5 separate regions of the Homo sapiens genome follow, and all the other regions are reported to be linked to region 5. Evidence: microRNA targets listed by miRTarBase, many of them from high-throughput screens and not tested one by one. Region 5 holds a microRNA gene; each other region holds the end of a gene's coding sequence.

What was found. The annotated mature microRNA hsa-miR-4538 reads GAGCUUGGAUGAGCUGGGCUGA and lies in region 5 at 1,487-1,508, opposite strand. An mRNA with a match to its seed (bases 2 to 7 or 8) in the 3' UTR can be bound and repressed. Matches are read on the target gene's strand: a 7mer-m8 pairs with bases 2 to 8, a 7mer-A1 pairs with bases 2 to 7 and ends in A, and an 8mer does both.
Region 1: miRTarBase lists RYK as a target of hsa-miR-4538. The part of its 3' UTR that is shown has no 7-base or 8-base seed match.
Region 2: miRTarBase lists PIGM as a target of hsa-miR-4538. The part of its 3' UTR that is shown has no 7-base or 8-base seed match.
Region 3: miRTarBase lists NUDCD1 as a target of hsa-miR-4538. Seed matches in the 3' UTR shown: 7mer-A1 at 2,913-2,919.
Region 4: miRTarBase lists NUCKS1 as a target of hsa-miR-4538. Seed matches in the 3' UTR shown: 7mer-A1 at 576-582.

What each region holds. Positions count from the first base shown.
Region 1 is chr3:134,153,628-134,158,732 of GRCh38, forward strand. RYK (receptor like tyrosine kinase) reads right to left here. Exons shown (of 15, transcript NM_002958.4): 15 at 3,506-4,637. The coding sequence ends at 4,526. Among named protein-coding and RNA genes, the nearest start is that of RYK, 95 kb to the right of the region's middle.
Region 2 is chr1:160,026,086-160,031,190 of GRCh38, forward strand. PIGM (phosphatidylinositol glycan anchor biosynthesis class M) reads right to left here. Exons shown (of 1, transcript NM_145167.3): 1 at 1-5,105. The coding sequence ends at 4,383. Among named protein-coding and RNA genes, the nearest start is that of PIGM, 3.4 kb to the right of the region's middle.
Region 3 is chr8:109,238,202-109,243,306 of GRCh38, forward strand. NUDCD1 (NudC domain containing 1) reads right to left here. Exons shown (of 10, transcript NM_032869.4): 10 at 2,718-5,100. The coding sequence ends at 4,808. Among named protein-coding and RNA genes, the nearest start is that of NUDCD1, 93 kb to the right of the region's middle.
Region 4 is chr1:205,714,031-205,719,135 of GRCh38, forward strand. It overlaps NUCKS1 (nuclear casein kinase and cyclin dependent kinase substrate 1), which reads right to left. Exons shown (of 7, transcript NM_022731.5): 7 at 1-4,449. The coding sequence ends at 4,250. Among named protein-coding and RNA genes, the nearest start is that of NUCKS1, 34 kb to the right of the region's middle.
Region 5 is chr14:105,856,735-105,861,839 of GRCh38, forward strand. It overlaps MIR4538 (microRNA 4538), which reads right to left and starts at 1,508; the gene lies at 1,431-1,508. MIR4539 (microRNA 4539) reads right to left here and starts at 838; the gene lies at 779-838. MIR4507 (microRNA 4507) reads right to left here and starts at 1,441; the gene lies at 1,390-1,441. It overlaps MIR4537 (microRNA 4537), which reads right to left and starts at 2,819; the gene lies at 2,750-2,819. It also overlaps IGH. RefSeq lists an enhancer at 5,055-5,105.

The sequences.
Region 1 (5,105 bases), not on the chromosome of region 5:
CTCCTGTGCAAAATTTAGATATTTTCACTCATTCATTCATTAAATATTCACCCCTACCATGTATTGAGCACACCACTAAAGCAATGGAGATTCAGATCTGAGTAAAACACAAGTTCCTATCCTCAAGGAACTCACAGCCAAGTGGTGAAAAATAAACCTCCATCTTACCTTTGTTAAAGTTCAAATCCAGGGAAAAAGGCTGAAAAGCAACCACGAAGCCTGGAGGAGAGCAGTAAGGTGTGAGAGGCACCTTCTTGGTCCCAAGGCGGCAGTGTGGGGAGTGCGGGGAGCACGTCATTCTCGGAGAAGGGGAAGGAGCATGCCGAGCGGCGGGAAGCGTGCAGGCCCGAAGTGGGGAGCAGGAGAAACGGCAGAGCTGAGTGGATACTCTGCCTAGGTCTGAAGTCTACTCTGAAGGCTCCAAGCAGGGACAGCGGCTCAGTTTTATAAAGTGTTACCTGGGCAGTTGCTGGCTAGAGGGGTTCAAGGCCGAGGCCAGGGAAGCAGCTATGGGCAATCTGGGCAAGGAAACATGACAGCTGCAAGCACAATGAGGGTGCCAGTCTGAAGTCCCAGGAAAGCCCCTCAACAGAGGCAGGCTGTTGGGTAATGGGACGGTGGCAGTTTTGTGTACCGCCTCCCTTACCTTACCTCCCTCACATTTCTCCCCCAGTAAACACACAACCCTTATACAACAAAAGGGCTCGGGGCCAGAGTGAAAGGCTTTCATGGTTGTGGACCAAATGGCAAGGAAGAGCAGTGGCCCATACCCCAGAGGGATTTTTCTCCCTCTACCGGATCATTCCCATGAGCCCATGAAACATTTTCTGGCACTGTACCTTCATCTGGAAAACACTCTCATCCCTGTCCCTCTTCTCCCGAAAAACCCCCTTTGATCTCCTCTAGTTATTGCTTCATTTCCCTTCACAGCAGGGCTGACAGTGGTAGGCCTTTACGTCCCCACCTGTGTCCACACTTCGACTTGCTCCAGTCCCCATGCTCCTGCCAGTTAACTCCATATTGCCAAATCTGATGGAGGCGTCTCCATTTTGAAACACGACCTTTCTTGGGCTCCTGCAACACCTCATTTTCACTTTTTTGTTGTTGCTTTTATCAATTACAGTGGCTTTTCCTGTCTTTGTTATCTCTTCTTTCTTCACTAGCTGGAACTGAAGGTTAGAATGCTCAAGACTCAGTCCTAGGACCTCCTCTCCATCTATACACTCTCTCCCTATCAACTCCATCCAGTACCATGGCTTTAAAAATAGTCTATATGCTATACTCCTACATTTGTATGTTCAATGAGACCTTCCCTGAGCTGCAGACTCTCATCTATCAAAAATCTCCATACAGATGATCAACTGGCATCTCAAACACAGTCTACACCAAATTATGGATTTCTCTGGCCAATGCAAAATTCAGTTTCTCCTAGATTTTTCCCCATCTCAGTATATAGCTTGGCCATAAAACCAGATGCTCAAGCCCCAAATCAATTAGTCATTCCTCACCTCCCCGCTTCCTTCTTCACCCCACCGTCAACATCCAATGGATCCAGGTCCTGGTGTATCTTCAAAACATATCTCCAATCTGCCCCTTCTCTCTGTATCTCCTCACTACTCAAAGTGGTCCAAACCACTATCTTTTCTTTTCTGAACTATGCAACGGCTTCTTAAAGGGTCTCATTACTTCTTCCTTTGAATTCTCACAATCCAGTCTTCACAGAGGAGATGGCACAACCTTTTCAAAATGACAAATCAGATCATATCGCTACTTACTTGAAAAATCCTCAAATGAATTCCCATTGTATTCAGCAAAAAATATAAATGTATGCCACAGCTTACAAAGACCTGCTTCTTTGTACCACTCCCTTCCCTAACTACATTCTAGCCACGCTAGCTACCTTTCTCTTTTTCCAACAGCAGCAGCAGCTAGAGAATGAAGGGGAACGGCTGAGATTGGAGGCCAGCTTGCTTCTGCTTTAAGGCTTCTGCAATTATGTGCCTTCTGCCTCTGTGTTCTCATGGCTGGCTGCTTCTTGCCATTCAGATCACAATTCAAATGCCACCTGCTTAGAGAAGCTTGGCTAATTATGACATCTAAAGTTACACTCTCTAATATCACTCTATTATTTCTATCATAGCACTTACCAAAATCTTATTTATGTTCATTACCTGTTTTTCTTAACTAGAATGCAAAATCTAGAAAGGGAAGAACCTCATCTATCTTGTTCCCTGCATTATCCCGAGAGCCAGGATACAGTGGGCACTCAATAAATATATACTGAATGAGCAACCCAATCCTCCCTCTATCAATAAAAAAAAAAAAAATTTCTAGAACAGGAGGATTACAAGAAAAAACAGAATAGAATGCATCTCTAGGTCACCAGAGCCAGCTTATAATACCACAACACTGCTTTGTCAATTTGCTTCTTTTCCATAAAAATTATATTTTCTGCAAAATCAGTAAAATGTAAAACTTCAGTAACATTCACAATCTACAATAAAACTACTGGAAGAACATGAGTCAGGGAGATCTTATAACTGCTCTTTCCTTCCCATGTCAAAGACTCCAAGTAGCTCACCAAGAAAAATCTACTACAATAAAAATACATACATAAAATAAAAGTGCTCACAAACACAAAAAGATAAGGTTACAGGCACCACACCATCCACCAAACTGAGGACATTTCTTACAATCTGCTAATTGGGAGTAGAAGTCAGGTGTCAGTACTTATTTTTTTTTTAAAATAGATCATGTACATGTTAATAAACTGTGATTTCTAAACAATGCACTCACTTGAACATGAAATAAGAATGCCCTGAATACTGGAAGGGACGCTTGAGTTGAACCACTCCATGTGGAAAATACACAGTAAGTGCTGTAAATGTTGACTGAATGCCTTCTAAGAATGCAGGTTATGAATGAAAATATAATTTACAAATGGTTCAAAGGGACCTTTTAAAAAACAGTACTCCAGGGACTGGCTTCATATGAGTATTTCATAAAACCAAAGAACTGTTAATAAATGTACACAGAAAATCATGCCCTTGGCTTACTTGTGGAAAACCAGGTACTATGTGAGCTATTTTTCCCGATGTGCTGCTGATTCATAAGGCTTTTTTAAAAACAGCAAAAGCCTCCAACTGCTACACATTCTCCCTTATATACCTCTGAAGATGGGAGTAGTGGCAGGTACCTGCAGGCCTAGCTATTTAGAAAGCCCATTCAACTCTGCTTTAGGCCAACTAAAACTGAGCATAAATACATACATATCCCTTACTTGCTGGTTCTGGAGAAATGTTTCAGTGTTTTAATACTTCCTTATAACATTAATTCCAACTTTTTACTAGAACCTGGAGTCTGAGCCAGCTTAACTGTGTTAGGGCTTTGGAACTTGACTGGAACATCATGAAATAAAACACAAATGTCTGGCTGTTGAATGTTCAAAGACTTACCAGACACAATAACCAATCATTCATTATGAAAAATAATTTCAATACTGTCATAATATAAAACAAATCCTTTAATTTTTCAAGTGTTTAAAAAACAATTTTATACTTAAGCCAGCCTTGAAGATAAGCACAAAATTTACCAGTTTACATTTAAAAAACAAACAAAAAACGACAACAACTCAAGCACCCGCTCTGTGCATAGCACTATTCTAGGTGCAATAAAAGGGAATCTTAACCTTAGAAATATGAGTTCACTTTCTGGAATTGTATTATCTCCTTTTCCAGAGAGTAAAAATAAATAAAATCACCATTGTTTACTACAGATCTGCCCCAAACCACATCTGGTTCACAGAAAGGCTAATTTCTGCCAAATTAAAGATGTAATGAACTCAGTTCCTGCTTTCCCAAAAACACGAAAGCAGAATTCCTTTTCACTGAAAAAAATAAACAGTTTTCCATGCAAGGGCAGTTTGCTTCTAATAAGTATTTTTAAAAAAATTTTTTTTTCCTCTAGCTTTTCTTTAAATTTTCTTCCTCTAATATTGCCTTTTCTTGTACAAGGCAGACCAGGTATCTTTTTATGCTGTTTTTCCTTTACTAAGAAAAGTATTGCATCTTGAAGACAAACCATTTCCCAGAGTAGTGATAAAAAATAACACTAAAAAAACTTTAAAGGTGAGTCACTTACATCACCTTGATGAAGTAAAAAAATAAAAAGCAGTTGGCACTAAGATAGCTAATTCCAAATATCTGTGTCTAAACAATTTTAAAAACTGTTTATTTATTTTGTAAGAATGTACCCCTAGTCCAAAGTAAGTATGTTTTAAAAAATTTTGGCCAAAAAATTTACAAAAACCCTTTCAGTTCAACCTAATAAAAGTGATATCTAGAAAATATGCCACATTATTAAGTCTGTCTTAAAAAGTTCAGATTCTAAAGCATTTCTAAGGCACGGTGTTCTGGAAGACAAATGTGCTTCTGTTGGCGTTGTGTTAGATACAAAGCATCCCTGACAGGCTTCAAGTGAGCCCCGACAGGCACCTTCTTCCTGATGGTGTGGGATTGGAGAGGAGTCAGACGTAGGCCCCCAGGGCTGCATGAAACTCTGTTAGGCACTGTACCAGCTGCTGAAACTTGGGCCTCTCCTCTGGATCTAAGGCCCAGCAACAGGCCATCACAGCAAATCTGCAGAGTGACAAAAATGAAAATTTGGGCTAGTAAGGATACAGTATTCATAACTTTTGCTCAGTTTGATGCCAGTTATGTTGCCTGTCTAAAGGTGGGTATGGAGAGGATGATATATTAAAAACGGATCCATTTTACTATCTGTTGGCAGCTCTAGAAAGAAGCTAAAAGAAATTATTTGGATTATGTGTGAATTTCAATTCTTCATGACAACATATCAAAATATTTCAGCAAATACAGAGATTTCATGTAAAAACCTAAAACACAGTAAAAAAAGAATGTGTGTTTTCCTGTAGTTAAATTAAGAAAAGAACTTGGAGGAAGAGAAAGTTTTATCTAAGTTCTATGAACCCTGGATCTAGAGTAAAATCAGTACAAAAGCTGCCACCTTGTCATGGTGCAGAAACCTTCAGGAGGTTCTGGAACTGAGAATATACTCATCTGTACGATCAATCACCCTGCATAGCC
Region 2 (5,105 bases), not on the chromosome of region 5:
ACCACCCCCATGTTTTTAGGGAGAGAGACAGAAAGTATGACACACAAAAGAATTAATTTGTTCAACTTTGATGGAAGGTAAACCCCTTTAGTTCTCACTTTGTTTTTAAGACTAGGAAAAGATTCAAACTTCTTAATTATGGATTATCCACCATGTTCTTTCCTTCCTCGGAATCTTTGAGATCCAAGAACGTCTGTTCTTTAAGATGTAACAAAAAACACCTGAAGAAATTTGAAAATGACAGAATGTTAAATCATAATAGATAGCAGAATTATGGTTTTGTAAGAAAATACCTGATTTTTAGGAGATGCATGCTGATATATTTAGTGGTGAAGTTCAATGATGTTTGCAACTTCACATGGTTCAAAAAATTTTATAAATATATAATTATACATATACATAAAGCAAATATGGCAAATTGTTGTTGAATTTAGATGATGGCAATATGAGTAGTGTTTAAAATAGTTAGGTCAGGCGGGGTGCAGTGGCTCACGCCTGGAATCCCAACACTTTGGGAAGCCAATGAGGGAAGATCACTTAAGTGATCTCCCTCTTGCAACATAGCAAGACCTCGTCTCTACAAAAAATAAAGATTAGCCAGGCATGGTGGCAAATACCTGTGGTCCCAGCTACTTGGGAGGCTGAGGAGGAAGGATCACTTGAGCCTGGGAGTTCGGCTGCAGTGAGCCATGTTTATACTACTGCACTCCAGCCTGGGTGACAAAGCAACATCTTGTCTCAGAAAAATAAAAAAATAAAATAGTTGGAGCTGTTTGTTTTAGAGGCAAGGTGTTGCTCTGTCACCCAGGCTGGAGTGCAGTGGCACAATCATAGTTCACTATAACCTCCTCGAATTCCTGGGCTCAAGTGGTCCTCCCACTTCAGCTTCCCAAGTAGCACTTTTTTTTTTGTACAGATGGGGGTCTCACTATGTTGTCCAGGCTGGTCTCAAACTCCTGTCCTCAAGTGATCCTCCTGCCTCAGCTTCCCAAAGCATTGGGATTATAGGCATGAACCACCATGCCCAGCTCTTAAAATCGTTTATAATAAAACATGAGGGGTGGGGGGAACCAAGAGGTTGCATTTAGGGACAATCCTAGGTATAATTTTTCCATCTTTTTCCTTTTCCATTCATAGTACAGATGGTTAGGGGAGAGGGTGGTAATGCAGAAAACAACTGATATTAGAGAAGTAACAGTAAATTCAGCCACAAGTCAACTGAAAGACAAGTTCTACACAACTTCTGAAACATCTTGTAAGAGTCCAGATGGTGAGAAGTCAGTAACTAAAATCAGTGGTTTTAGGAATTCTTTTGCCAGGAAGGAACAAAGCACTGGGTGGGAGTATTAGCCTTTCCAATGGGCCTATCAAGAGAATTTATCCAGGAATATTTAGGAACCACATTCTAAAGACGTTACAAAGGCAATTACAGAAGAAAATGTCATGTAGTTCCCTCTGTTCAGAACACACACAATCTTGAGAATCATCCCTCTTTATCTAATAATTAATGCTTACCTGCAAATGAACATATCAATCTTAAGAGGTGGTATAAGAAAAAAAGAATTATATAGGAAATAAGCCAAAGTCTTATAAAATTTGAAGGTGTTATTAAAGGATTAAAAAGGAAACAAAAGGATTGTGATAAGAAGCAAAAAAAAAACATTTTTTTTACATAACCAGAAAACAAATTAAAAAATTAAAATCCCCCAAGAAACCAAATTAACTCATTTTTTTAGTTAACTTACTAAATGTTTTGGAACATACAAAGTGCAAAATATCTTTTGCATCCCTTTAAGAAACACCTGCCTTTCTTTGGTAAAGAATTTCTTGCAGGAAAGATTCCAAAGTTTGAAGTTCCCTCCAACGATCCCAGCAGAAATGTTTCTAACTTCTAAGAATGTCCTAAGAGAATGAGCTAAAACACAGAAAATGTTGAAAGTCTTATTTAGAATATTAAAAACTGGAAGCAATCTAAAGGTCTAACAGTGGAAGAATGATGTATTTATAATGTGAATATACATGTGATGTCCAACAATTTCAATTCTAAGTATGAAGAGTAAGCCACAATAAAGAATGTTAAAAAACAATAATTAGTAAGTAAATATAATTATAAAACCAAGTCAGAAATACAAAAAAAGGGACAACTATACTGGAATGATGAAATTCGATTTCTGTTTCCTGCCTCCTCCCTTGCTGGCTCTATAATTTTTTTTTTTAATTCTTAGAATAGGAAAAAAAGGTAAGAATGCTATGGCTGGAAGGCCACTAGTAAACAAGCACATATAAAGGGTCCTCAAGACAAGACCTAATATGGGTATGAAACTAAATGTTATAAGGAAGGTCATTGTCCTCAGCAACTGACTCTGCTATTTTTACCCCAAACAGGAGCCCATACAAAACCACCCCATTCTTTCCCTCTTTCTAATGAAAGGTCCCAAAAGGTATCCATCCAAGAAGTGCTGCCAATAATAACATTGTTAATTGTGACCAGCCTATAAACATCTTATTTGCAAAGGATTTTAGGCCTGAACTGACATGAAATATAATACTGTGGAACTTTTTTTGTCTTTTTGTGAGTGTTTTCTGACTGCAAAAGAACAGTTCATCAAATTACTTATCTTTTAAAAAACACAATCACAAAATCATATTCATATACTGCTACTGTAGTATTAGGGAATCCCAAGCCTAGACAGGCTGTTTAATTAAAAAAAAAAATGTAAGGATGCTTGTTTAAACAACTCAGAAAGCATTTTTCCCCCAGAAATATTACAGTGATAAGGGAAACGATCTGACCACCTAAGCCTCAGTTCCACAATCTCCCTCTAAATTCTCTGGTCTAGAAAACCCATGGCTCTCTGGGATGCTTCTTATGCTTTTCAGGAGTTTCCCTCACAGGTCTGCATTTCTATCATGGAATTTTTGATTTTTTTTTTTAAGCTAGGAAATGTCTTACTAACAAGTTGTTTTATCACCTAAAATCTACTATTATCCATTTTTACAACATAGATAACACTTGGTTGACTTAAATTCTAGAAGAAAAAAGTCTTGCTTTAGCAATCAAAAACTTAAAAACAAAGGGGTAAGAGGATACTGAAATGTACTAATAGTTTGTGTAGGACCACAAACATTAAAGGCAAGATGATAGTTTTAAAAATGTAATAACTCAAGTCTAAACATGAATGAATTTAAATTTAATCCTTTTTGTATGAAACCAAATAGCAGTCTAATACCACTGGGACTAAGTGCTATAAAAGTAAGTAATAAAACAAATACATGAAACATGATTACAATTTAAATTCTTTGGATTATCTTTTTTTTTTTTTTTTTTTGATATGGAGTCTTGCTCTGTCGCCCAGGCTGGAGCGCAGTGGTGCCATCTCGGCTCACTACAGGCTCCACCTCCGGAGTTCACGCCATTCTCCTGCCTCAGCCTCCCGAGGAGTAGCTGGGACTACAGGCACCCACCACGCCCGGCTAATTTTTTGTATTTTTAGTAGAGAGGGGTTTCACCGTGTTAGCCAGGATGGTCTCAATCTCCTGACCTCGTGATCTGCCCGCCTTGGCCTCCCAAAGTCTTTGGATTATCTTGTAAGACCCCACATTTAATATAGAAGTTTAAAACTCTCTAAAATAATACTACTAAGCATCTTAGTATTATTTAATACTTTTCTATCTAAAAAGTTGTCCTTTCCTTTTTTTTTTTTTTTTTTTTTTTGAGACAGGGTCTTGCTCTGGGCTCAAGCAATTCTCCCACCTCAGCCTCCCATGCAGCTATGACTACAGGGGTGCACCACAACACCTGGCTAATTTTTTTTTTTTTTTTTGAGACTAGGTCTCACCATCTTGCCCCAGGTGGGTCTAGAACTCCTGAACTCAAGCGACCCTCCCACCTCAGCCTCCCAAAGTGCTGAGACTACAGGCAAGGGCCACCATACACAGTTTAAGAATATTTTTTGGATTTTCACAGCTGTCAGGAAAGCTTTAGAAAGAAAAGATGGGTGTTAAAAGTTAAGACACAGCTTAAGACAGAAGCATTGTAAAACAGGAACAAATACTGGCTTAAACCTGATGTCTCTAACTATATTCCTCTATTTTAAGAATGTTTTAGTATCTGATAGTTTCATCAGCCTTTCCATTTTCCAATATGTGACCTTTATTCCCACCATGTCCCAAATAAACGAGTCCTAGGATTTCCTAGAAGGTGGACCTCAATTATTGTGTCCCTTTTATATATAAGGCAAACATTGCTTTTAAGTTCTGTTGGAACATGGGAACTTTCACTAGAATGCTTAGAATGTTCAGAAAAAATGTCCCAAAGCTCTCTTCTGGTCCATACAAGACAATCAGAATGTAACACAGTAGCAGAGGGTGTGGAACATACACTAGTCATATTTGATTCTCTCTGTCAGGGGTTCTTCTTTGTAATGGGAAATAATTTGAATCAGGATGGAACAATTGATAAGAAGAAAGAACAAACCAGCTAACCAAATAAACAGAAAGGTGTTCTTTCCTTGAAACTCTAGAACATAGGCAGGAGCCAGCCACATGGCCTGCCCTATAAACCATAACATTAGGAGAACTACAGCTCTTTTCCAAGGCATTCTGACTAGTGGCATCACAAGAGGCAGTAAGCAGAGGTACCAAAGAAAGTACTGGGAGGTGCAGACTTTGTTAAAAGTCACAAAAATGGACGTATGAAGAAAACAACAAAAAACGAGGTCTCTGTAATAGGCGAAAGACACAGCTGAAAGCAAGATGAGCTGTGGCAGGAATGCAGCAATTCCCAGGGAAAAACTCCACTTGCTCTCTGCAGTCAAATACAGCATGTAGAAGTACGGAGAAAAGTTGTGACGGATATCCCGCCTAGTCAGGTGATAAAAGTAGGTGTGTTCCAAAAATTCCCAGCCGTACTCATAGTAAAAACCAAAGCTCAGGGCAAAAAACGTGAGTCCAGCAACTGCTACAAACAGCAGCACAGCCCGATTACACAGCCTTTTCAGGAGCTCGTACAAACAAGCCTGGAAAGTGTACCGGAATTGACGGAGGCTTTTGTCATTGTCGCGATCTGGAAGCAGGTGGAGGGTTATGGGAAGGATGTAAGTCAC
Region 3 (5,105 bases), not on the chromosome of region 5:
GGTAATCACTGATCTGTTTTCTATGTGTTTGCACTTTCTAGAACTTTGAGTTGAAGCATACAGTATGTACTCTGGCTTCTTTCACTCAGCATAATTACTTTGCAATTCATCTATGTTGGGTATATTGATACTTTTTATTGCTGAGTAATAATCCATTGCATGGACATAGCACAATGTATTTAGCCCTTCATCTGTAGATGGATATTTGACTTGTTCTGAGGTTTGATTATTATGAATGCTGTTGCTCTGTTCAAATCTTTGAATAGACATATACTTTCATTTTTCTTAGGTAAAAGAATGGGTAAGTGGAATAGCTGGGTCACATGGAAGATCCATGTTTAACATTTTAGAAAACCACTAAACTCTTTTCAAAGGCGATTCTACCATTTTACATTCCAAACAGCAGTGTTTGAGAGCTCCATTTGTTTCATACCTTTGCCAGCATCTGGAATGGTCAGTCTTCAATTAAAGGATTTCAATAGCTATGTAGTGATACCGCATTGTGCTTTCAATCTGCTCATTCCTAGTGACCAATAACGTTGAGTGCCTTTTCACATGCTTACTTGCCATTCATCTTGTATGATGTATCTGTTCAAAATTTTGGCCCAATAAAAAATTTACATATTTGATTATTTTATTATTGAGTTCTGAGGGTTCTTTATACATTCTGGACACTAGTGCTTTATTAAATAGTGATTTGTAAATGTTTTCTCCAAATCTGTGGCTTTTCATTGTCACAACACTGCCTAAGAACGTAATTTCTTAATTTTGATGAAGTATGATTTGTCACTTTTCTTGTTTGGTGTCATATGCAAGAAATCTTTGCCTAACCCAGCCTTACAAAATTTTTCCTTTATGTTATCTGCTAGAAGTTGCACAGTTTCAGGTTTTACATTTAGGTCCATGATCCATTTTAAGTAAATTCTGATATAAGGCTGTGTTAGTTTCCTATGGCCGCTGTAATGAATTTACCACAAATTCGGTGGTAATGCATTCTGTCACAGATCTGAGGCCAGAAGACCAAAATCAAGGTGTCAGCAGGGCCATTCCCCCTCCAGAGGCTCTGAGGGAGAATCTATTCCTTGCTTCTTCCAGCTTCTGGTGGCTGCCAGCATGCTCTAGCACTCCTCGGCTTGTGGCCTTTTAAACACCATCTTCACATAAGCTTCTCCTCTTTGTGTTTGTAATTGCACTCTGCCTCTCTCTTGTAAGGGACACTGCAATTAGATTTAGGGTCCACCCCAGATAATCCAGGATAATTTTTCCATGTAAAGATCCTCATTGTAATCACTTCTGCAAAGACTCTTTATCTTCATAAGGTTATATTTTCATGTTCCAGGGATTGGAACCTGATATCTTCAGGTGGCCACTATTTAGGCTACTACAAAGGCAAAAATGAATACCCAATTGTTTTTGCGCCACTTGTTAAAAATATATCTTTTCTCCATCAAATTATCTCTGCATTTTGAATTGCCTCTTCATTGAAATATCTCTGACTAAAATCAACTGACCATATGTGTCTGAGTCTCCATCTGGACTCTTTATTCTGATCTATGGATCTATTTGTTGAAATTGGTGCCAATACCACATTTTCTTGATTACTGTAGCTTTACTGACCATCTTTATTTTCTTTTCTGTGAATTAACTGTTCATATCTTTTGTCTGCTTTCCTTTTGTATAACTTGTTTGCTTTTTTATTAAATGATAGTTCTTATGTTCTAGATTTTAACATTCATACATTACGCATAAGTCACATATCTTTCCTCAGTCTGTTGCTTTATCTTATACCAAAAGTAGGTCATAAAGAAATTTTACATTTTGTAATGATCAAATTCATCAATCCTTTCGCTTATATTTTTGCCTTCTGGATCTTAAGAAGCCTTCTCAACCTTGAGAATATAGATATTTTCTTCTTGTAAGTATAGGACGATTAAATGTGTGTCTATTTTGTTTACTAATGCAATGATGCTACTCTTTTTACTGCTTCATGATGTATCTTGATATCTAGTTGGGTACCTTTTACCTTGGCTCTTTTTGTGCATTTATTCTTTCTTACCAATTCTAGAAGGCCTTACTTCTCTTTGCTTTATTACTTCTATACTTCCATCATTGGGCTTTTGTTTTTTACCACTCAACTATTATTACTTGTTCAGTAAGACACACTTACTACTAAGAAGTAATTAGAATATTCTTCCAGTAATAATCAGTGATAAGTATCAGTTTTGCCTTCTTATATGACTTGCCACACATAAACTTACCATCTGTTCTTTTCTATAGTTAATAACACAAAATATTAGAAATTCCTGTGTAATGATGGTTTAACTTGTTCTGTACAGTCATTTCCCTTTTATGTAGAAATTTGATGAGTATACTTTATTTAAGAGTATTTTTTTTAACATTGTTAACCATTCCTAATTTCTTGACACTCTGATTCTTTTTTCTAACTCTTCCCATTGGCAACTCCTCTACCTGACTCTTGTGGGTAGTCCCCAAGGTTCTAGCCCTGGTCAGACTTCCTTAGCAGGAAAGCAACCACTCTATGCCACCCTCTCCTCTTTTTTTCCCTAAAAAGAAATTTTATCTGAAAATCATTAAAATGTAGATTGTCTCTTTATCCTTAGTAATATATTATCCTTAATACTGAAAAAATCATGCTAAGGTACATAGTTGATGCTTAAATGTGTTAAAAGAGTGAATATTGTTAATGACTCTTAATATGCAAAACACATAAAATACTACTTTATTACTATCATAAATATTTTATAAATTCCTATTTAAAACATGATAAAAATCAACAAAAATACAAGGTACTATATTCTTAGCACTTGTAGTATATATCTCAATGTTCTAAGTATATGTACCTTAGAACATTGTTTAAATGTTTATGGAATCCCTGAAGCATTTCAGGAAAATAGCTTGAAATCACGGCTCTAGACCTATTCATCTTTTAACGTAGGTCAACATGCGACAATATTTAGGATTAATTATCCTGAGAGCTTTCAATTCAACATTAATCATGCAAAAAAATCACATGCACAAAGAATATTGATTACTAAAATTGGCAATATATACATAGTCATGGTTAATTAAGCACCACATTTTTATTATACATTTTTCTTATGTTCCCTAAGAGGATATTATCTTTGGGGAAAATTTTAGAGAAAATTTAGATCTACTTTCCCATCATAAAGATTTTTAATAATTCACTATTTAAATGGTCTTTTGTTTCATGAAGTTTTACAACAATACTAAAAAGTTCTGGAAATATCACTGTTTTGGTTTTTGGTTACTATACAGTTTTCCATCTCTATGATCTCGTGATGTTTGGTATCTAGTCTCTCTTTCCTAATACGAATAGAGTACTATTAGGACTCCAATTGTCAATACCAGTCCTCAGGACCTTTCCTAACTTTCTACCTAGCACCTCAATACTCTCTAGGAAACTGCAATCTGACAAAGGGTTTAGAACATGTATGCAATCCTCATCTTTTTTCCTCCTCTCTGTCATTCATTCGTTCATTAAAATTTAGTTGAGTCAAATACTTGCCCAGACAGGCAAAAGATATGTTAGGAACAAAGCTTTTCTATCTTATATTTCTTATCTTAATCTTCTGCCTCTTAAATGAAGGTCTTAACTTCCTTATTAAAATATAAAATCCAACTTGAGGTTTATATAAGATACATATCTTGAAATGGTATAAAAAGTAATAAAAATTTCCAGGTACATACATACTAAAACAAACCTGGAAAGGTAAGTTTGAAAAAACAAAATTTGTGGCAAGAAACTATAACATATAAACAGGATTATTTTGTTGAAGTTGTTAGAAAAATAAAGAGAGCCACAAGGATAAATTATAATTTGTCCTTGTGTGGTAAGATTGTTCCATCAATGGCCCCCAATGAGTCATACCATCCGCTGTCAGCTTGTGTAGTCCCCTCATTCTGACTCTAGACTTGGCCATGTGATTTGCTTTGTCCAATGGAACATTAGTAAATATGATAGATGTACAGGATCGATAAGCTCTTGCATATTGGAGCTTGCTCTCTTAAGATGTTTTCTCTACTATGGAAAGAAGATTCGTCTAGTCTACTGGAGGCTGAGAGGCCCTGTACAGCAGAGACAGCCAACTCACTGAATCGTGAAAAATAATAAAAGTCCTTGTTTTAAACCACTGAGTTTTGGTGTGGTTTGTTATGCAGTGATGGATAATGTGAAATCTTATCTCTCTTTGTCTATGTCTGTGGCAGAGCAACTGGCTAAAAGTTACATAAAGCTATACTTAATTTGAAAATAATAATAAAGGTCTCTCAGTAAACTTAAAAAATATTAGACCTGCTGTTCTCTAGCATTTCCTCCTCCATGTAGACTCAGTTATTCAATCCACTTAAATACATATGTACAATACTCAACATTTAACTATTATCCTGTACATCTTATAGGTACAGCCTGTAGCAACTAATCAACGAACAGAGTACACAATAAATATTTTTATTTTTAAACACTGAATTGTACATCTTTCATATAAAACATGAGATTCTAGCCTGTTTTAAAAAATAAGTATACTTGCTAGTACTATCTTCACTCTTTTTTTTTTTCAGAAGCCAATGTTCTCTAAATCTGCAGCTTCATTCCACAGCTTTACAGAATCATAATCTCTTGAATATATTTCCAATGTTATTAAAAAATAAAAAATCATACAAGATATATTTAGCACATTAAAACTTAAGAGGTTACAGTATAACTGTCCAGACCTCCAGGTACCACTGAATACTTTTCCAGTACAAAGAGGCCAATATGTTAGAATAATTAATTCTCTGTATTTACTTTTATTAAAAAGAGGTTTTTGGTAGTAAGAACAAATAATCTCTCATTTGTTGCCTGAAATCCTAAAATAGGATCATTGGTTTCTAGGCTTGCTACTTGCTGCTTAGCAACCTGTCCTACTTGCCTGCCTTCCTTTCTGTTGTAAAGTACAGTGGACATGGGAGCAGGCTGACGATAGATGAATACTCGACGAAGGCACTCACAAAGGGCTGCATACGAGTAATTTGGAGCACAGGCAAAAAATTTTTTGTCTCTCTTTGATGCTTGGACATAGCCTGCC
Region 4 (5,105 bases), not on the chromosome of region 5:
ACATGTTCATGGTAAACAAACTAAGTAGAGCTCTTATTTACAAATCTTGTAACAAATACTTCTGGAGGAAAAAGAGAAAAGAATTCACTAAGTTCCAGAAGACAAAGCTTTAATTGCCAGATGTATACAAACACACACTCACACGTACACACCCACACAATACTTCAGGGGTTTTTATACATGTTATTTTAGGGCATAAGCTGAGTACTATACCCCCACACCCCATCAAAAAAGGAACAACAAAAAAATCCCAATTTTACCCTCCCCCAATAATCTAGAAAACCCTCCCTTCACCCCTGATGTACAAAGTGTATGCACAACGGTGGCATTCTACCAGCCACACAAAGCATGCTCAAACAGATGTCACCAGTTCAGTCACTCCATTGGCATGGCAACAGGCAGGTTTACGGGATGTTTCCCAATAGTGGTTATTACACAGTCAGCACCACTGTGAATTTTGTGAATTTGAAAAAAAAAAGTGTAATTTATGGATTCAGGATTCAAAAAGAATCATTTTGTATCGAATTTACCCCAGACAAAGGGAAAACTGGTTGCGACTGAAACTTGGCTATAGATAGCTTGATGTCCCAATATTCAAACAATAAGCCAACTCTCCATTTTCAAGTAAATCCAGCTTCATCCACAGAGAAACAGACAATTTTCTAACCTCAAGAGCAACCAGCTTGTTACATTTTCCCTATCCTATGGCAGGAAATGCGTATTACTTCTGTTCTGTTTAAGCATCTCAGTCTAAATGCCATGAAGACCAGAGCCCAGGTTTCTTCCTTTTCAAATTCTTAAGGTGAAAGTTTTTTCCTTTCAGTGCAGCTACCAATGATGCAGGCAAAGAACTGTTCAAGCCAGCACTCATTCTTCAAAGCTGCAACAGTGGCCACCATGATCTTTTATAAAGCTTTCCCCGTTGCTCCTGATATTTATTTCTGCTTTTGCCTAACGCTCTCAAAGCATCTCGTAAACTGAAGTTTAAAGAAAAGCACGATTCCCATCCCCAACCAGTACTTGAAAATCCACTTATCTGAATGTTCACAGATAAAAAAGCCATTAAAAAAAAGAGTCAAGTTTAGTCTAGCTGACCATATTCACAAGTGTTAAAAACTTTACTGGAGTATAACCTCAAATTTCACTCTTGATTTGTTATCTGTAAGAAAATGCTATTTGAGCCAGTACCAAATTAAGTATTAAAATGAGGATTGAACTGGGGCAAACAGGTTATTGTGAAAACAGTCAATATGTAAGCTCCTTCAAGGGAAATCAACTACTGTTCCTCAAGATTAGAAGATGTCCACACTCTTTGCATTACCTCCCTAAAGGAGGAAACACCCATTAATTTTCCCTTATGGAATCAATATGGAGTGGAAATATGAAATGAGGAGATGTTTTAGAAAGCAGGACAAATCTACCTACCATTACTGGAATTAAAATGTATCCTCTGGGCCCACTCCATTGATTCCGATCTGAGGTGAGGAGGACTAAAAGCAGCAGCAGGTTACAGAAAGACTGAATAAGATGAAAGTATGCTACGTATGTCTAGCTGGGGAAGGGGGGATCTGGAAAAAAAATCTTAAGAACTAGAATGTAGTGTCAGTCAGCATAGCTGCTGAAATCTACGTTGTAGAGGTAAACCTAGCAGAGCTAATACAAACAAGCACCTTCAAAGTTAACGTCCCACTTCCTGAGCACTGCAAAATACGACAGTGAATGCTATTGCCATTTCACCATAGGCACACTAGAGAAAAAGAGGAAGGTTAGTCAAGGATGGTGCCAATGGCCAGTCAGTATCGGCTTACAGCTTGTAATGCGTCCTGACATCACTATCAAGCCTGACTATTGAGCACCTGTATCCAGTTGAGTCACCACCACTGTCCTCCTATTTGCATGCATGATTTGAGGGGAAGACTAGAGTGTTTTAAATCATCAATAAAAAGTGGAGAAAACAAAGGTTATTCAGAGCCTGTCTCACTTGGGGACACAGATCCTTCTGTCCAGTCTATCAGAAATATAGAATACATTTTTCAATCTAATGAATTAATTTTAAAAGGGACCCTAAACAAGAAGCCCAATCAAATGCACACAAGTAATCTAGAAGACATGATTACCTCTAAAATATGTGCATATATCACAGAGATGTTAGTGCAGATTAATATATTAAAGAGACTGTTAAACAACTGAGGCTGAAGTTTTAAAAGAGCCCTCCCCCCAAATCTTCACGAAACATAACCTAAGAAAAGCCCAAATGTTACTAGGAATGTAAGACTTAAAATTATAAACTCCTAAAAAATAGAAGTGCATGGTGGAAACACTGATAGGTCTTTTACTATATGAACACAAACTTCTTTGTTAAAAATGGATACCTGAACAAACCCATTTAGGCAAATAGATTAATCTTTAACACCCTCATTACAAAGTTCACACCTCTGAATTTAACCGTCATGAAAGAGAATGATCCAACTGCTATTTATGTTCAAGTCCTGTATTTTTGGCCATGTAACTGAAAACTCCTTATTCATTCTTTAACACACAGTGCAATAGTGAAATGACTCTGCCACTGTGTGTTTTTTAAAAAAAGATCAGAGTAAGCATGTTCCTAGTAAACCACAAAGTAGGATATTGAGGAAGCAAATCTAGATTAAAAGGCAGGAAAAAAAGGCAGAAGTTTAAATTTCACTAATTTTTCAATTTATTAGCATACCAGGACCCTTTAAACCTTGTTCCCATTAGCGCCTGGTATTAGATGTGAAGGATCAAACCTACGGATCTATCTCCTGACTGCTTTTATAAGGCGTGTAAAAGTCGGTTTTCAACTGCACACAGGCCTCCTAAAATGCCTTGTTTCTCTAGTCCCTCCTGCTTTAAGCAGCATGAGCAGTAAAGCAGGGGTTGGACCAAATAAAAAGACAAGAGCTAACTGAATTGTATGGGAGCAGCATTTAACATATTCCTAGTCAAGGACAGGATGGGAAGTAAGTGAAGAATAGGGCCAGGAAAATAGTGTCCTATAGCAGAGGTGGTTGGCACTCGGGGTAGGGTGTGCAGTGGTGCTCTACGAAGCAGCAGGATCACAGGGATGTACTTCTTATCACATTTCTATGAAGAAATGGGAAGATCGGGATATGAAAAAGAAAATGTTCTATCCCCAAATAAAAGCAGAGCATGGTTAATGGGACCTGAATGCACATTTATAGCATAAAAGAATGTCAATTCTATTTCATAAAGGAAAAATCTCAACTCTTTGTGACTGAGTTTCACATTAACTGGAACTTTATTTGCTTAAAACCTAAACATTGTCAGTTTGAAAAGAAATCCACTGTGACCTGTAGACTGATCTTGTTGATTAAATTCTAGGGTTTTTTTTTTTTTGGATTCTTGGTAAAATTTTATCCAAAAAACAGGATACATATATATTTAGAGAAGGAAATATGAAATCAAGAGTTTTGGCAGCCCCTGCTTTTTTTTTTTTTTTAGCTCCCTAAAGACTGTAGCAGGATAAAAGGATCACTGGCTCCGAGTCTCTTTGAGATAACAAGTGATGAAATAAAAAAGAAAGCCCATACCCTCAAATAAGGTCAGGTAACCCCATTGCCCACCCTCCCTACAAGGTAAAAAATGAGTACTTTTAGTAACAGTTCAGAATTCATCTTTATCTCCTACCTGCCTCATCGGTGGAAGTTTAAAGTCATGATTTTTTTTAGACATTGATACTTGTGTCTATAGACAAATAAACTCATATTAGATGACAATTGATTTTTTAAAAGTCCAGGTAGAGAAAGGAGCAATCATTTTGAACTAAAATCTTTCTATGTTTTTTGATTACTATTCAACTTGCTATTTTTTAGCAAAAAGCGAAGTTTCAATAGTGTTCATCTCAAATCTTATTGCTTTACAACCGTGGTACACCTTTCATTAAAAATAAAAAGATGAAGCAGTCAATCCAGTGATTAATTTGACATGGCTTTCATTGGGAAAGGGGAGGGCTGGCAAAGAGACCAATAGACAAAAAGGTAACTTAAACACTTACACATACAATGGTTTGCTTTAAAAAAAAAAAAAAAAAAAGAGAGAGAGAGAGAAATGTTACTTTCAACAAATGGAAAAAAGCACTGAAAGCCCATGAGTCAAGCCATAGCCAAAACCATGTTCTATCTTAAGTAGGTTCTTTTTTTTCCTCCCTCTTTTTTCTTTTTTTTTCTTTTTTTTTTTAATAAAATCTCTCCCCAGACCATCATCACTTTTAATCCTCCCCAGAAGGGGCTTCATCTTCAGACCCTTCATCCCCAGATTTCTCGGGTGGGGGGCTTGTAGATGTTTTCTTTTCTGGCGGGCTTTCCGGTTCCTCATCTTCTTCTTTGGGAGAAGGAGTCTTTTCCTTTGATGCCTTTGAAGCTGTGGGGCGACCCACTTTCCCTTTGCCTTTCACTGGACTTGGCGTCACTGAAAATAGAAAAATAATTTGGGGAAGGGAAGAGAAAAAAATGTCTTTAATAAAAGTCAGCTACAAAATACAACAATCTGTAAGAATAAAATCTATAAAGACAATATGCAACTTACTAAAAACCAAGGTGGGCACAAGGGAGCACATATATCCCTAGGTAAATCTATCTCAGTTTCTAAACTGGTCATAAGTTACTACACTATGCTACAGTATTTCCCATCAGTTTTTACCAACACTCTATGATGTTAGCAGTAATACCTGTAAAGAAGAAGCACCATGCTATAGAATATGCACAACATCCTTAATTGCTTGGTAAACTAACAGTTGTTTATGATAAAAGTTGTTTATAAAAAGCAGGTCAAAAAGACGGAAGGAAAAGAATTAATCTGATCAGAAACTAAAGCCATCAAATAACATTTGATAGTTCCATCATTCCTAACAGTAGGAAGTGATAAACAGAAGTTTAACAATGACTAGTTCTACCTAACAGAATAAAACCACCTACACAAAAAGCAAATTGATTTCTGATTTAGTTAACAAACTAGCTCCAACGAGGAGAAACCATTAGGGCTCAGAAAAAAATCAACTCATGTCATCAAGTGTGGTTTTATTCTGATAGCACAGAGGATGGGGTAGAGTTCAGAACGTGGAACTT
Region 5 (5,105 bases):
CACACACCCCGCAGGCAGCCAATAGAGTCCCTCCAGCCCAGCTTCTGCTGCCCCCAGCTCAGTCACACTCCAGCTACCCTGAAGTCTCCCCAGGCAGACAACCCAGGCCTGGGAGTGAGTATAGGGAGGGTGAGTGTGATGGGGAACGCAGTGTAGACTCAGCTGAGGCTATCCATCTATGTCCAACAAGATCATGAAGATTGGCCCAGTGCCATGTCCTCCAGTTCATCCCAGCCCAGGCCAGCTCAATCCAGTTCATCCCAGCCCAGGCCAGCTCAATCCAGCCCAGCCCACCCCACCCCAGCTCAGCAAAGCCAAGCTCAGCTCAGCCCAACTCAGATGAGCTCAGACCAGCTCAGCCCAGCCTAGCTGAGCTCAGACCACCTAAGACCATCTCAGCTCAGCCCAGCCCAGCTAAGCCCAGTATAGCCCAGCCCAGCTAAGCCCAGTATAGCCCAGCCCAGCTAAGCCCAGTATAGCCCAGCCCAGCTAAGCCCAGTTTAGCCCAGCCCAGCTAAGCCCAGTATAGCCCAGCCCAGCTAAGCATAGTTCAGCACAGCCCAGCTCAGCTCAGCACAGTTCAACCCAGCTCAGCCCAGCTCAGTGCAGCACAGCCCAGCTTAGCCCAGCCCAGCCCAGCTCAATCCAGCCTGGCTCAGCCCAGCCCAGCCCAGTTTGGCTCAACCCAGCTTGGCTCAGCCCAGGTCAGCCTGGCTCAACTCAGCCCAGCCCAGCCCAGCTCTGCTCAACCCAGCTCTGCTCAACTCAGCCCGGCTCAGCCCAGCTCAGCCCAGTTCAGCTCAGCCCTGCTCAGCACAGCACAGCAGAGCTCAGCTCAGCCCAGCTCAGCTCAGTTCAGCTCAGCCCTGTTCAGCACAGCACAGCAGAGCCCAGCCCAGCCCAGCCCAGCTCATCCCAGCTCAGCCCAGCCCAGCCTAGCTTAGCTCAACCCAGCTCAGCACAGTTCAGCTCAGCCCTGCTCAGCACAGCACAGCAGAGCCCAGCTCAGCCCAGCTCAGCTCAGTTCAGCTCAGCCCTGTTCAGCACAGCACAGCAGAGCCCAGCCCAGCCCAGCTCAACCTAGCCTGGCTCAGCCCAGCCCAGCCCAGCCCGGATCGGCTCAACCCAGCTTAGCTCAGCCCAGGTCAGCCCAGCTTAACTCAGCCCAGGTCAGCCCAGCTTAACTCAGCCCAGCCCAGCCCAGCTCAGCCCCCAGCTCTGCTCAACCCAGCCCAGCTCAGCTCAGCTCCGCTCAGCCCAGTTCAGCCCAGCTCAGCCCAGCCCAGCCTAGCTTGGCTCAACACAGCTCAGCTCAGCCAGCCCAGACCAGCTCAGCTCAGCCCAGTCCAGCTCAGCTCAGCCCAACCCAGTCCGGCTCAGCCCAGCCCAACCCAGCCCAGCCCAACCCAGCTCGGCTTAACCCAGCTCGGCTCAGCCCAGATCAGTCTGGCTCAACTCAGCCCAGCCCAGCTCAACCCAGCCCAGTTCAGCCCAGCTCATCCAAGCTCAGCTCAGCCCAGCCCAGTTCAGCCCAGCCCAGTTCAGCTCAGCTCAGCCCAGCCCAGTTCAGCCCAGCCCAGTTCAGCTCAGCTCAGCTGAGCCCAGCCCAGCCCAGTCCGGCTCAGCTCAGCCCCGCCCCACTCAGCCCAGCTCAGCTCAGCCCAGCTCAGCCCAGCTCAGCTTAGCCCAGCTCAGTTCAGCCAGGCACAATCTGGCTCAGCCCAGCCCAGCCCAGCTCAGCCCAGCCCAGCCTAGCTCAGCACAGCCCAGTTCAGCTCAGCTCAGCTTAACTCAGCTCAGCTCAGCTCAGCCCAGCCCAGCCCAGGTCAGCTCAGCCCAGCCCAGCCCAGCCCAGATCATCCCAGCTCAGCTCAGCTCAGCTCGGCTTAGCCCAGCTCAACCTGGCCCAGCCTGGTCCAGGTCAGCCCAGCCTGGACCACCCAGCCCAGCTCAGCTCAGCCCAGCTCATCCTGGTTCAGCTCAGCTCAACCCGGCTCAGCCCAGGTCTGCTCAACCCAGCCCAAATCAGCTCAGCCCAGCCCAGGTCATCCCAGCTCAGCCCAGCACAGCCTACTTCAGCTCAGCTCAGCTCAGCCTAGGTCAGCTCAGTTGAGGTCAGCTCAACTCAGCCCAATCCAGCCTGGCTCAGCCCAGCTCACCCTAGCTCAGCTTAGCTCAGCCCAACTCAACCCAGCCCAGCCTTGCCCAACCCAGCTCAGCTCAGCCCAGCCCAGGTTAGCCCAGCCCAGCCTCGGCTTAGCTCTGCTCAGCTCGGCCCTGCTCGCCTCAGCCCGTTCAGCCCAGTTCAGCTCAGCTCAGCTCAGCCCAGCTCAGCCCAGCCCTGGTTAGCTCAGCCCAGCTAAGCTCAGCTCGGCTCGGCTCTGCTGAGCTTGGCCCAGCTTGGCTTAGCCTGATACAACCTGCTCAGCCCAGTTCAGCTCGGCTCAGCCCAGCCCAGCCCAGCGTAGCTCAGCTCAGCTGAGCCCAGCCCAGGTTAGCTCAGCCCCAGTCCAGGTCAGCTCAACTCAGCCCAAACCAGCCTGGCTCGGCCCAGCTCACCCTAGTTCAGCTTAGCTCAGCCCAGCCCAGCCCTGCCCAACCCAGCTCAGCTCAGCCCAGCCCAGGTTAGCCCAGCCCAGCCTCGGCTTAGCTCTGCTCAGCTCGGCCCAGCCCAGGTTAGCCCAGCCCAGCCTCGGCTTAGCTCTGCTCAGCTCGGCCCTGCTCGCCTCAGCCCGTTCAGCCCAGTTCAGCTCAGCTCAGCTCAGCCCAGCTCAGCCCAGCCCTGGTTAGCTCAGCCCAGCTAAGCTCAGCTCGGCTCAGCTCTGCTGAGCTCGGCCCAGCTTGGCTCAGCCCGACACAGCCTGCTCAGCCCAGTTCAGCTCGGCTCAGCCCAGCCCAGCCCAGCGTAGCTCAGCTCAGCTGAGCCCAGCCCAGGTTAGCTCAGCCCCAGCCCAGGTTAGCTCAGCCCAGCTCAGCTCTGCCCAGGTTAGCTCAGCCCCAGTCCAGGTTAGCTCAGCCCAGCTCAGCCCTGCCCAGGTTAGCTCAGCCCAGCTAAGCTCAACTTGGCTCAGCTCAGCCTAGCTTGGCTCAGCCCAGCACAGCACGCTCAACCCGGTTCAGCTTGGCTCAGCCCAGCCCAGCCCAGCCTAGCTCAGCTCAGCCCCGCTCAGCCCAGCCTAGCTCAGCTCAGCCCCGCTCAGCCCCGCTCAGCCCAGCCCAGCCCAGCCTAGCTCAGCCCAGCTCAGCCCAGCCTAGCCCAGCTCAGCCCAGCCCAGCTCAGCGCAGCCCAGCCCAGCTCAGCGCAGCCCAGCTCAGCTCAGCTCAGCCTAGCCTTGCTCAGCCCAGCTCAGCTCAGCCCAGCTCAGCCTAGCCTTGCTCAGCCCAGCTCAGCCCAGCTCAGCCCAGCTCAGCCCAGCCCAGCCTAGCTCAGCTCAGCCCCGCTCAGACCCGCTCAGCCCAGCCCAGCCCAGCCCAGCTCAGCCCAGCCCAGCTCAGCTCAGCCCAGCCCTGCCCAGCTCAGCCCAGCTCAGCCCAGCTTAGTGCAGCCAAGCCCAGCTCAGCTCAGCTCACCTGGTGCAACTTAGCCCAGCTCAGCTCAGCTCAGCTCAACCCAGTTCAACTCAGCCCAGTTCAGCTCAGCTCAGCCCAGTTCAGCCTTGTTTAGTCTAGGTCAGCTTAGGTCAGTTTTGCCCATCTGAGTCCATTTCTGAAAGCTGGATGGAGTTGTCATGGCCAGAAATGGTCAGCCCACCAGACCTGCTTGTCTCAGCTAAAGCCATCTCATTGCCGGGTTCCTGCACAGCCAGGCTGGCTTCCATCTTTTGTCTCCCTCTACTTGATACCCCAGTTCCCTGCAGTCCTGCCCCAGCGCCACCTGGGTTTTGGTTCCAAAGCATTACCAATCATTACCACCCTCCACTACCTGGGTGGAATATTTCTTTGCTGCTTTAAAGTCATTAAAACATCTTGAGAATGAGACCAAGAATTTAGGAGCCTGTGCTGTGATAAAAATGAGCAGGTCCCCTTGCTCTAGAAGTGGCAGCATATCTTCTGCACCAAGAGGAGGGTATTGAGATGCTCAGAGCCTCCACCTTCCCGGAGCATCCCCTCCCTTCTGAGTCTGCAGTAAACCCCTGCCTTTAAATTCCCTCTAGATAACAGTCATCATTGGAAACAACCAAGAAATGCATTTTATCTGAATTTGCCACTTAAAATTCTGCCATTTACCATAAATCGCTTTGGAAGGCATGGGCTACTTTCAAGGGTGCGATGATGACCTACAGTCAATGACTTAGACAAGGGCGATGCCAGTGGGGCTTGGTATGTTCTCAAGCATCATTACCCATGCCATCCCCATTCAGAGGTTGTGGAGCAGCTCGTGCGACCTCTCCTTCAAATGGGCTTTAGGGAAAGTTAAATGGGAGTGACCCAGACAATGGTCACTCAAAAGACTCACATAAATGAGTCTCCTGCTCTTCATCAAGCAATTAAGACCAGTTCCCCTTCTAGTGGAAATAAGACGTCAAATACAAAGTTTTAAGAGAAGCAAATGCAGCAGCGGCGGCTGCCTGTCTCTTACCATGTCGGGCGCCTGGTCACTGCGAGCCTTGCAAAGCTTTGGCATGGAATCATTCCTCCAAGTCCATTAACAAGGGCTGGGGCCTGAGCAGCCAGTCGGCCCGGCAGCAGAAGCCACGCATCCCAGCTCTGGGTAGTCCGGGGAGACCCAAAGCCCAGGCCGGGCCTGGCAGCCACCCTCCCAGAGCCTCCGCTAGGCCAGTCCTGCTGACGCCGCATCGGTGATTCGGAACAGAATCTGTCCTTCTAAGGTGTCTCCACAGTCCTGTCTTCAGCACTATCTGATTGAGTTTTCTCTTATGCCACCAACTAACATGCTTAACTGAAATAATTCAGGATAATGATGCACATTTTACCTAAAACTTATCCTAAAGTGAGTAGTTGAAAAGTGGTCTTGAAAAATACTAAAATGAAGGCCACTCTATCAGAATATCAAAGTGTTTCTCCTTAATCACAAAGAGAAAACGAGTTAACCTAAAAAGATTGTGAACACAGTCATTATGAAAATAATGCTCTGAGGTATCGAA